Regions from separate parts of the Homo sapiens genome. Here region 2 is linked to region 1. The links come from fine-mapping of genetic effects on gene expression. A gene starts in region 1. The other region holds a variant in brackets. All regions are shown on one strand. Distances are between the middles of the regions. Region 1 holds the start of HGH1 (HGH1 cochaperone). Region 2 overlaps MROH1 (maestro heat like repeat family member 1).

Region 1 (5,192 bases):
TTCCCTTGACAACTGCTAATTTACTTTCTGTCTCTATGAACTGACTATTCCGGACGTGTCTTATAAATGGGATCATAAAATATGTGATCTCTTGTGATTTCTTTCTTTCATTTAGCGTAAGATTTTGGAGTTCATATGTGTTGCAGCATATGTCAGTACTTTGCTCCTTTTTATGGCTGAATAATATCCCTTTGCATGGATTTATCTGTTTATTTTTCCATTCGTCAGTTGACAGACATTTGGGTTGTTTCCACCTTTTGACCACTATGAATAATGCTGCTTGTACACGTTCACGTTTCTGTGTGGTTTTCAGTTTTCATTTCTCTTGACTAGATGCCTGGGAGTGGAATTGCTGGGTTATATGATAACTCTGTTTGCGTTTTTTTGATTTTTTTTTTTTTTTGAGATGGAGTCTGGCTCTGTCATCCAGGCTGGAGTGCAGTGGCACCGTCTTGGCTCACTGCAACCTCTGCCTCCTGGGGTCAAGTGAGTCTCCTGCCTTAGCTTCCTGAGTAGCTGGGATTACAGGCGCGTGCCATCGTGCCTGGCTAATTTTTGTATTTTTAGTAGAGATGGGGTTTCATCATGCTGGTCACTCTGGTCTCGAACTCCTAACCTTGTGATCGACCAGCCTCAGCTTCCCAAAGTGCTGGGGTTATAGGCGCGAGCCACCATGCCCAGCAAATGTCTGACTTTTTGAGGAGCTGACAAAATGTTTTCCACAGTGGCGGCTCCATTTTACAGTCTCACCAGCAGTGTATGTGGGTTCCAATTTCTCCACATCCTCATCAACAGTTGTTTAATCTGTGTTTTTGGCCGGGTGCAGTGGCTCACGCCTGTAATCCCAGCACTTTGGGAGGCCAAGGTGGGTGGATCATCTGAGGTCAGGAGTTCAAGACCAGCCTGACCAACATGGAGAAACCCCGTCTCTACTAAAACTACAAAAAAAAATTAGCCAGGCGTGGTGGTGCATGCCTATAATCCCAGCTACTCGGGAGGCTGAGGCAGGAGAATTGCTTGAACCTGGGAGTGGAGGTTCCAGTGAGCTGAGATCGTGCCATTGAACTCCAGCCTGGGCAACAAGAGCAAAACTCCATCTCAAAAAAAAAAAGAAATTCTGTGTTTTTGATCATAGCCATCCTAGTGGGTTTTGCACCAATAATGTCTGCTACACCCTACTTTGCAAAACCATTATGACTATATATATGAACACTATGCAAGGTTTGCTCTCAGGGAAGCTTTGGAAAGGACCCGTCCAAGCAAGGCACCATGAAGCTTAAATTTTATTACCTTCCTTTAAGTACTGTTTTCTTTTTTTTTTTTTTGAGACAGTCTCACTCTGTCACCCAGGATGGAGTGCAGTGGCACAATCTCCACTCACTACAACCTCCCCCTACCAGGTTCAAGCAATTCTCCTGCCTCAGCTTCCCAAGTAGCTAGGACTACAGGCACACGCCACCATGCCCGGCTAATTTTTATATTTTTAGTAGAAATGGGTTTCACCATGTTGGCCAGGCTGGTCTTGAACTCCTGGCCTCAAGTGATCCACATGCCTTGGCCTCCCAGAGTGCTGAGATTGCAGGTGTGAGCCACCGCACCCGGCCTAATTTACTGTTATTTATTTTATTTTTGAGATGGAGTCTCCCTCTGTTGCCCAGGCTGGGGTGCAGTGGCGCTATCTTGGCTCAATGCAACTTCTTCCTCCCAGGTTCAAGCAATTCTCCTGCTTCAGCCTCTCGAGTAGGCGGGACTAGAGGAGTGTGCCACCACCCCCGGTTACCTTTTGTATTTTTTTTAGTAGAGAGGGGTTTCACCATGTTGGCCAGGCTGGTCTCAAACTGCTGACCTCAGGTGATCTACCTGCCTTGGCCTCCCAAAACGCTGGGATTATAGGCATGAGCTACCACACCTGGCCTAAGTACTGCTATCTTGAAGGAGGCAGACAGAAACCAAGCAGTCATGGGTGGCGGGTGGGCTGAGTCTCTGTAAGTTGCCCAGGGAAGATAGCTCTGACAAATAATTAGAAGTTGCCAGCCTTGTGTACAGCTGAGAAAAGAGCATTCCAGGCAGAAGAGACAGCAAGTGCAAAGACCCTGAGGCCAGAATGGCCACCAAAGTTGTTTGGTTCCGTGTCCTGAGCTACCAGCTTGGCAGATGGCTGGTGCCCAAAAAATGCTGGAGTGAGGGAATGCCCTTCTTTTGCCCTCCCTTCCTCCCAGTCTGTGTGTCTCTAGAAGGTTGCTGCTCCGCCCACAGTGGAGGACACGTGAAGAACTGGAGTCCTTTTCTGGGGCAGACTCCAATACTGGGACAGAGAAACTCTTCTGCCACGACCATGGAACTGGGAGGTCCCAGTGTCTTTCTTTCCCAACTGCTCTGAGAAAATCGGCCAGTGGCAGGTGGAAATGATATGGAGCCACAGAGCAGCAGGGCAGCAGAGAGGGAGAGCAATGGTAGGGTAGACAGTACAAGGCTCCAGAGAGCTCCTGGATAAAGCAGTGCCGGAAGCTGGCTCCCTCCAAACCTCCATTTACAAATTTTCTCTTCGTGCAAGTCAGTTTGAGTTGGGTTTGTCACTTGCGACTGAAGACGTCCTGACAAATGCCCCAAAGCTACCAGCTCAGAGATGCCCAGAGGCCTCTCCAAAGCTGCCTCCTCAGGTCCCCACTGGGGCCCTGTGTTGTCCTGTCCCTGGACGGCCTGAGCTTCTCGGTGGCCGTGCCAGCCTGGACAAGAGCAGGCCTTCCTTCCGAGAGGCCCGTGGCCACTCCCCCATTCAGCCCTTCTCTGACCCGACAGCCTAGTCGAGGAGCCGGGGCGCGGGCCTCAGACCCTCAGGGCCCACGAGAAGCCAGGGCCGGCTGACCAGGTTCGGCGTGGCCAGCGCCCAGTGGGAAGCACTGGCCGACCTAGCCGAGACTACATGGACGCTTCCAGCGAGTGTGGACGCGGCAGGCGGCCAAATCGCGCCGGGCCTCGGTCCCCATGGCTCGGGACATCACAGCGCTCAGTCTCCAACCTCCGCAGCTTCCGGCCAGACGCCGAGACCCATAACTCCCCGCGCGCGGCCTGGCCCCTCCCCTCCGCACGCCGGTCCCGCCCCTTGAGCCCAGTGCGCAGCCTCGGATTGGCCAGGGCGGCTTTCGCTCCTCTGGTGGGCGGGGTTGCGGGCCACACAGCGGACCCCTAAGCGGACCGCTGGCACCGGTCGGGTGGCAGCAGAGTGTCGCTCGACATGGGGGAGGCCGGGGCTGGCGCTGGCGCCTCGGGAGGGCCGGAGGCAAGCCCGGAGGCAGAGGTGGTGAAGCTGCTGCCCTTCCTGGCGCCGGGCGCGCGGGCGGACCTGCAGGCGGCGGCGGTGCGGCACGTGCTGGCGCTGACTGGCTGCGGACCCGGCCGCGCGCTGTTGGCGGGGCAGGCGGCGCTGCTGCAGGCGCTGATGGAGCTGGCGCCGGCCTCTGCCCCGGCCCGGGACGCCGCCCGCGCGCTCGTGAACTTGGCCGCCGACCCCGGCCTGCACGAGACATTGCTGGCGGCCGACCCCGGGCTGCCAGCGCGCCTGATGGGCCGCGCGTTGGACCCGCAGTGGCCCTGGGCCGAGGAGGCGGCCGCCGCGCTAGCCAACCTCAGTCGCGAGCCGGCGCCGTGTGCAGCGCTCATGGCGGCGCTGGCGGCCGCGGAGCCGGCAGACTCGGGCCTGGAGCGGCTGGTGCGCGCGCTGTGCACGCCCGGCTACAACGCCCGCGCGCCCCTGCACTACCTAGCGCCGCTGCTCTCCAACCTCAGCCAACGCCCTGCGGCGCGGGCCTTCCTACTGGACCCCGACAGGTGAAGCCCAGGGCGCCCGCGCGGGCGGGGAGGGGACGGAAGTTAGGGGGGACGGCCCTAAGTGACACCTCCCAACAGGTGCGTGGTCCAGCGGCTGCTGCCCCTTACCCAGTACCCCGACTCCTCTGTACGCAGGGGCGGGGTGGTGGGGACGCTGCGGAATTGCTGCTTCGAGCACCGTGAGTGGTGGGTGTGGCGGGGGTGCGTTGCCAGGTGTGGGGACTGGACTCCGGGGCTGCTCTGGACCAGTTTCCATTCCCGTCTCCCCACCCTCACCATCCCTCAGGACATCACGAGTGGTTGCTTGGACCTGAGGTGGACATTCTCCCCTTTTTGCTCCTGCCCTTGGCTGGGCCTGAGGATTTCTCCGAGGAAGAGATGGAACGTGAGTGGCTAGTGTGGAGCCTCAGAGTTGGCCGGAGAGGAGGGAGGCCAGTGGAGGGAGAGAGAGGTGTCCAGGCCACAGGCTCCTGAAACTTTGCAGCAGTGAGTTGCTGAGCACAGGTGGGACTTACACAGGCAGAGCCTGGCTCAGCTGCCCAGCCCAGGGACACAGTGGCTCCCACACACTCACCCCTAGGGCTGCCTGTCGACTTGCAGTACCTGCCACCAGACAAGCAGCGAGAACCTGATGCAGACATCCGCAAGATGCTTGTTGAAGCCATCATGCTGGTGAGCAGGAGCCCTGCTGCAATAAGCACCACCCCAACACACACACATGAGCATGCTGACATCTGGGTAACCTCTTCCACCTCCTCAGCTGACAGCCACAGCACCAGGTCGGCAGCAGGTGCGGGACCAGGGAGCCTACCTGATCCTTCGAGAGCTGCACAGCTGGGAGCCGGAGCCCGACGTGCGGACGGCTTGTGAGAAGCTCATCCAGGTTGGTGCAGGGTTGGAGAGGCTGGGGAAGGGGTGTCTGTAGCTGGCCAGCTGCTCACCTGCTTCCCGTCTGGCAGGTGCTTATTGGGGACGAGCCTGAACGTGGCATGGAAAACCTGCTGGAGGTGCAGGTGCCTGAGGATGTGGAGCAGCAGCTGCAGCAGCTGGATTGCAGGGAGCAGGAGCAGTTGGAGCGGGAGCTGGCCCCAGAGCCATGGGTGGAGAGGGCCACACCCACCTGAGGCCCCTGCAGCCGGACACCAGCTCCAGGGTCCCCTTTGCCAGGCTTTCTCAGACCAGGCCTTCCTGCAGCTGTCTGCAGGCCCCCTGGGTCCCCTTGTTCAGAGACTGTGCTCTTCTGAGAAGCAGAGCTACGCTTAGGCTCCAGTAAGGATTGGAGGCACTTTCCAGCCCTGTGCAGTGTTGCTACCAGCAAGAATGAAGGTTGTGCAGAGCAGTACTGTGAGGTAGGCACCGTGACT
Region 2 (5,192 bases), 100 kb after region 1:
CGAAGGCTAGCACTGCTGTCTTCACATCTTTTAGCTTTTTCTTCTTCCATTCTTTTTAAATTTCTTCTTCCTTGAAGTCTTCGGCAGCCTGTTCTTCCAAGTTAGTAATTTCTTCCTCAGTGAATCGTTACATTATTCGTTTCCTGAATTGAATTCTTTATTTCACGGTTATACTTTTTCACACCCTGTCGCTGGGATTTTCCTTGTTCTTGGCTCCTCATTTCCCCGTTGTGGTTCCTTGTTTCCCTGTTGCGGTACTTTTGGTGCATTTTTTCGCACAGGCATTGTCCCCAGTCTGTGTCCTAACGTTCGTGTTTCTGGTGGAGTATGTCCTCACTGTTCGTTATCAGGTATTTTGCAGTTTCTATTTGGTTTCTTTATTAACGCAAATGATTCTTTTATGATCTTTAAAATCTCCAGGTCGATAGGTTTTCATGGGTGTTGTGGATTTATTGTTATATTGAATCTGGCCAGGTTGATTTCTGCTTTTAAGTGTTGGTTGCAATATTATTTTTGGCCTAATGGTCAGGATTTCAAAGTGTATGTTTGGTATGAAGTTCTATCTATATTTTTAGTGCCTACTGTAAAAATTGAAGTTCAAGGCCTAAATATCACTGTTTTTTTTTTTTTTTCTGTGTGACTTTCAGCTTCTGAAAGAGAGGGATTAGAAGTCCCTGCAGTGTTGCCATTTTTCCAAATATGCCGCTTTGTGGTTGAGCTTTTACTTTTTGGTATTTCAAAACCTGAATGGAACGTGTGGGAAACAGAAGTCGTCTGCTTACAGGGACGCCTTCTGGGGAGCTGAGCGTACAGAGAGGACAGCAGACATCCAGCCCACCGTGGCTGCCGAGGCTGGGTGGCGTCCTGGTGGGAACCAGGTTTTCTGACATGGGTAACGTTCCCACAGAGGCTATCCTGTTCCTCCCCTGCAGGCATTGCAACCTCACGAGCAGTGATTTTTTATGGAGTCAGTAGCTTAGCAAATGCTCAAGGTTTTGTTTGTTTTGAAGATGAGAACTGAGGCAGGTAAGCCTGCTTTCTTGGGTGATCTTAGCGGAGAGTGCCTTTCCTGTCTGTGGCAGGTGGTGCACATGTCTGCGTGACCTGCGGCGAGGCTCAGGGTCTGCCCCGCTTCCGGGCAGGCTGTGTCCTCAGGCCCAGAGCCATGGCCGCCCACGCACGCCTTTGCCTTTTGCCTTCCTCCAGCCTGAGAAGCCAGGCCCCGGCAGCAAGGACCCCAAGGCCGACAGCGTGCGGGCCATCAGCGTGCGCACCCTCTACCTGGTCAGCACCACCGTGGACAGGATGAGTCACGTGAGTGCACGGCACCCGTCCCTGCCTGGCGACAACAGAGCTCTCCAGGGCAGTGGCCCAGGGTGCTCAGGCCCAGCAAAGGGTCTGTCTCCACCTTGGAGCTCCGGCAGGGCCCTGTCTGCATGGGACCGCCCTCTGGGCGGATGCAGACCAGGCCCTCTGCTCCCCTAGGTCCTCTGGCCATACCTGCTCCAGTTCCTCACCCCTGTGCGCTTCACTGGGGCCCTGACTCCGCTCTGCAGGAGCCTCGTGCATCTGGCGCAGAAGAGGCAGGAGGCCGGGGCCGACGCCTTCCTCATCCAGTACGACGCCCATGGTGCGTGCCGCGCCGTACCCCACCTCCCCACTCCTGCCCCCACTTCCCCACTCCTGCCCCCACTTCCCCATCCTCCAGTTCCTGACACCCGCCCCAGGGCTACAGGCAGCCCCCCACTGACTATTTCCACCTCTCATCTCCAGCGAGCCTCCCGTCTCCCTATGCTGTAACCGGAAGACTGTTGGTGAGCCTCGCCCTTTCACAGCGTGCCCAGCGCCCCACTCTGTGTCCCTGTGCTCCACCCAGGCTTGGAAGGGGTTACCTTCTCAGTGGGCAGCCGCGGTCAGGGCTCAGGTGTGGTTTTCCTCTACGTGGGCGGCCCAGCTTTGGGAAGAGCCAGGCTCCCCGTCGGGTGATGTGGTCCTGCAGGTGCAGGTTGTGGGCATGACCAGTGCTCCCTGCTCAGACCCGGCTCCCACGCTGCCTCTTTTCAGGTTGTGTCTTCCAGCCCCTACCTAGGGGACGGACGTGGGGCAGCGGCGCTGCGCCTCCTCAGTGTTCTGCACCCAAACATTCACCCTTTGCTGGGTCAGCATTGGGAAACGACTGTCCCGCTGCTGCTGGGGTACCTGGATGGTGAGGCCAGGGTCAGGATGGGGTGCATAGCCCTGTGGGGAGGGCAGGTCTCAGAGTAGGAGGGTGCTAGCTCTGACCCCACCTTTGCCAAGTGGCACTAGGGTGGCCAATGGGGACTAGGGTTGTATAATTGGAAAATACAGTCTCCCCTGTTGTCCAAGAAAGGCCCCAGATGACCTGGGGCTTGAAAGGCACTCCCGCTGGGTGCTTCCTGGGAGCAGGTGGGGGGCAGCGGGGCGGCGGGGCCTGTCTGTGCTGAGCATCCCCAGCTCCAGGGCAGGTGCTGGGCTCTGAGCCCCACTGGTGCGTTTTGGGATGGGCTGGCCTGCGCGGCTGTCGTTTCAGAGCACACAGAAGAGACCCTGCCACAGGAGGAGTGGGAGGAGAAGCTGTTGATGGTGAGGGCCGGGGTACGGCCCATCCTGGGCCTTAAGGTGTTGTCTGGCCTGGGGGGTGCTGGGGTGGCAGAGGCTGGGCCACCTGCCTCGACCTCACCTCGTGGTTTGGCTGGGGAGCCAAGGATCAGGCAGC[A/G]TCAAGGCTGAAGACCCCAGCAGCCTTGCAGCGGGGGCCTTGCTGTGACAAGGCACCGGCCCTCTAGCAGTCGCAGCCCCAAGCGTCGGGGGCAACCTCTCACCCTGCCTGGTGAGCCAACTGTGGCATGGCTGTCCCCTGAGGGTTGGCTCTGCCGCCCCCGGCCTCCGCTGGAAGGCGGTCTGCAGCCCCTGCAGCCACAGCACATGGGGATGTGCCCAGGCTCCAGCCAGCCCTGTGAGGGGTCGGGCTCCCAGCCCCTCAGTGGCATCTTGGCCTGCAGTTCCTGCGAGACACCCTGGCCATCATTTCTGACAACGCGTGGATCTGCCAGCTGAGCCTGGAGCTGTGCAGGCAGCTGCCCTGCTACGATGAGGCACCCCAGGAGAAGGTGGGGCACCTGCTGGCGTTCTTGGTGTGGTACTTGGGCTCCGAGTTTCTGGGTCTCGTGTCTGTCACTTGCTGTCTGGGCCCTGTCTCCCGTGGCCCTGGTGGCCTGGCAGAGCCTCCTTGTGGTGGCTGAGGGCCAGGAGTGCGAGAGCCCACCGGCCCCACCGCTTATTCCTCAGATGTTGCCCCAGACTCACCCTGCAGTTCTCATCAGCTTGTGGGCAGGAGGTGCACCCCAGGGGCAGCCCCATGGCAGCGCTGGGTCTCCCTGTACTCAGGAGTCAGGCAGAGCCGTGTTCTCTGGTTTTGTTTCAGAACTTCCTGTACAAATGCATAGGCACCACCCTGGGTGCTGCTTCAAGTAAGGAGGTGGTGAGGAAGCACCTTCAAGAGCTGCTGGAGACGGCCAGATACCAGGAGGAGGCAGAACGCGAGGTGGGGCCGCTTTCCCTGCAGAAGCCCCAGACACCCCAGGGCTGGAGGACGGTGGCACCTGCTGTTCTCTGAGGCAGCTGGCTAGCCTGTGTGCCTGTGTGTGCGTGTGTGCATACACAGGTGGTGTGCGTATATGCAGAGAGGGTGTGTGCATGTGTTGATGTGTGTGCAAGTGTGCGCATGTGTGTACATGTGGGTGTGCCCGTGTCCACACGTGACAGTGTGCGTGCATGTGTGGCAGTGCGTGCTCTTCCCTGCCCGGGGTAAGTGTGCTGCCCCCCAGGGCCTCGCCTGCTGCTTCGGGATCTGTGCCATCTCCCACCTCGAGGACACGCTGGCCCAGCTGGAGGACTTCGTGAGGTCAGAGGTCTTCAGAAAATCCATTGGCATTCTCAACATTTTTAAGGTTAGGGTGACACCGGTGCAGGGCTGGGGACGGCTGTCTATCCACAAGTTTGAGGCTCAGGGGGTGCCCTGCGGGCTGGAGTGGGGCAGGAAGCTGGTTGCGTCCCTGGACCAATTTTTGCTCCTGCATTCCTTCCATGGGCAGGACCTGTGCGTGGGTGCTCCCAGTGGGGAGGGCGGCAGAATGGCCTCCCGGAGGCAAACGTAGCTGTGGCCAGGGCCACGTCTCTGCCAGGTGTGGGTGATGAGAGGGGTTCGCGGCTGGGGCAGGCCTCTGCCCCCTGGTGGCTGGCAGATTCTGCGTTCTTGCCAAACCACCAGCTGTGCTGGCGGAGCCTAAGCCTGGTTTAAGGAAGGAGTGGGCCCCTGCTGCAGGCCCCCAACCCGGCTGTGGTCCCTCTATTTCCTGTCTCCCGTAACTGTCCCAGTTACAGCATCTCAGGGCTGGACCAAGCATGCAGGGCTTCCCAGCCCTTGCTGTGCGGATGGAGGCTGATCTGCAGCGAGCAAGGGTGGGGCCTTGAGCTCTTCTCAGCTGCCTCCTGCCTGACTCTCTCACGTGGCTGTGCTGCCTTGACCCTCGGCCCTCTGCTACCTCGGCCCTTGGCCCTCTGTTACTCGGTACCCAGTGGGCCCATGCCTGGCTGGCTGCCTGTGCTCCTGCCCCTTGCAAAGAGGCTCTCCCCATCCCCAGATTCAGGTGGTGCCGTGCACGGCTGGGTCACACCTCTGCTGTCACTGACTGGCTCTGGCCCTTCTTCTGGGAGGATTTCAGGAGTTTCTGAGCCGAGGATTCCCGTCGGGGAGTGTAATTGTGTAACTGAAGTCCCGCTGGTTCCTCTGGCCTCTCAGGATCGAAGTGAGAACGAAGTGGAGAAGGTGAAGAGTGCTCTGATCCTGTGCTATGGGCACGTGGCGGCCCGGGCCCCCCGGGAGCTGGTGCTGGCCAAGGTAGAGTCAGACATCCTCCGGAACATCTGCCAGCACTTCAGCACCAAGGTGGGCACTGCGGTGGGCCTGCCACGCAGGGGAGCTGGGGCTGCCGGGGAGTCACGTCTTAACTCATTTCACTTTTTGTTGTTCAGGTTCTAGGAATAAAGGTAGAAACCAAGGTACAGTGTGTAGGAATTAAGTGCTGGACTGGCTTCTCTCCTCTCGGCTCTCCTCTGGGCGGGTTGAGCTTCATAGGCAGAGGCCGGAGGGGGAGCTTGGAGCTTGCTGGGGC

The links. PIP is the estimated chance that this variant, and not a neighbour inherited with it, causes the effect. A credible set is the group of variants that fine-mapping cannot tell apart.
Region 2: its variant is the best candidate, but not a certain one, in a credible set for the expression of HGH1 in lung (TOPMed, PIP 0.83).

What each region holds. Positions count from the first base shown.
Region 1 is chr8:144,134,601-144,139,792 of GRCh38, forward strand. It overlaps HGH1 (HGH1 cochaperone), which reads left to right and starts at 3,174. Exons shown (of 6, transcript NM_016458.4): 1 at 3,174-3,828; 2 at 3,907-4,007; 3 at 4,115-4,213; 4 at 4,409-4,500; 5 at 4,589-4,711; 6 at 4,788-5,192. The coding sequence starts at 3,236. The coding sequence ends at 4,952. RefSeq lists an enhancer at 2,772-2,821 and silencers at 3,012-3,471, 3,482-3,711, 3,752-3,871.
Region 2 is chr8:144,237,550-144,242,741 of GRCh38, forward strand. MROH1 (maestro heat like repeat family member 1) reads left to right here. Exons shown (of 44, transcript NM_032450.3): 15 at 1,207-1,314; 16 at 1,486-1,630; 17 at 1,774-1,814; 18 at 2,065-2,206; 19 at 2,552-2,604; 20 at 3,021-3,128; 21 at 3,443-3,562; 22 at 3,846-3,968; 23 at 4,820-4,966; 24 at 5,053-5,079. Among named protein-coding and RNA genes, the nearest start is that of MIR7112, 23 kb to the right of the region's middle. The variant A/G (reference allele first, on the strand shown) is at 2,738.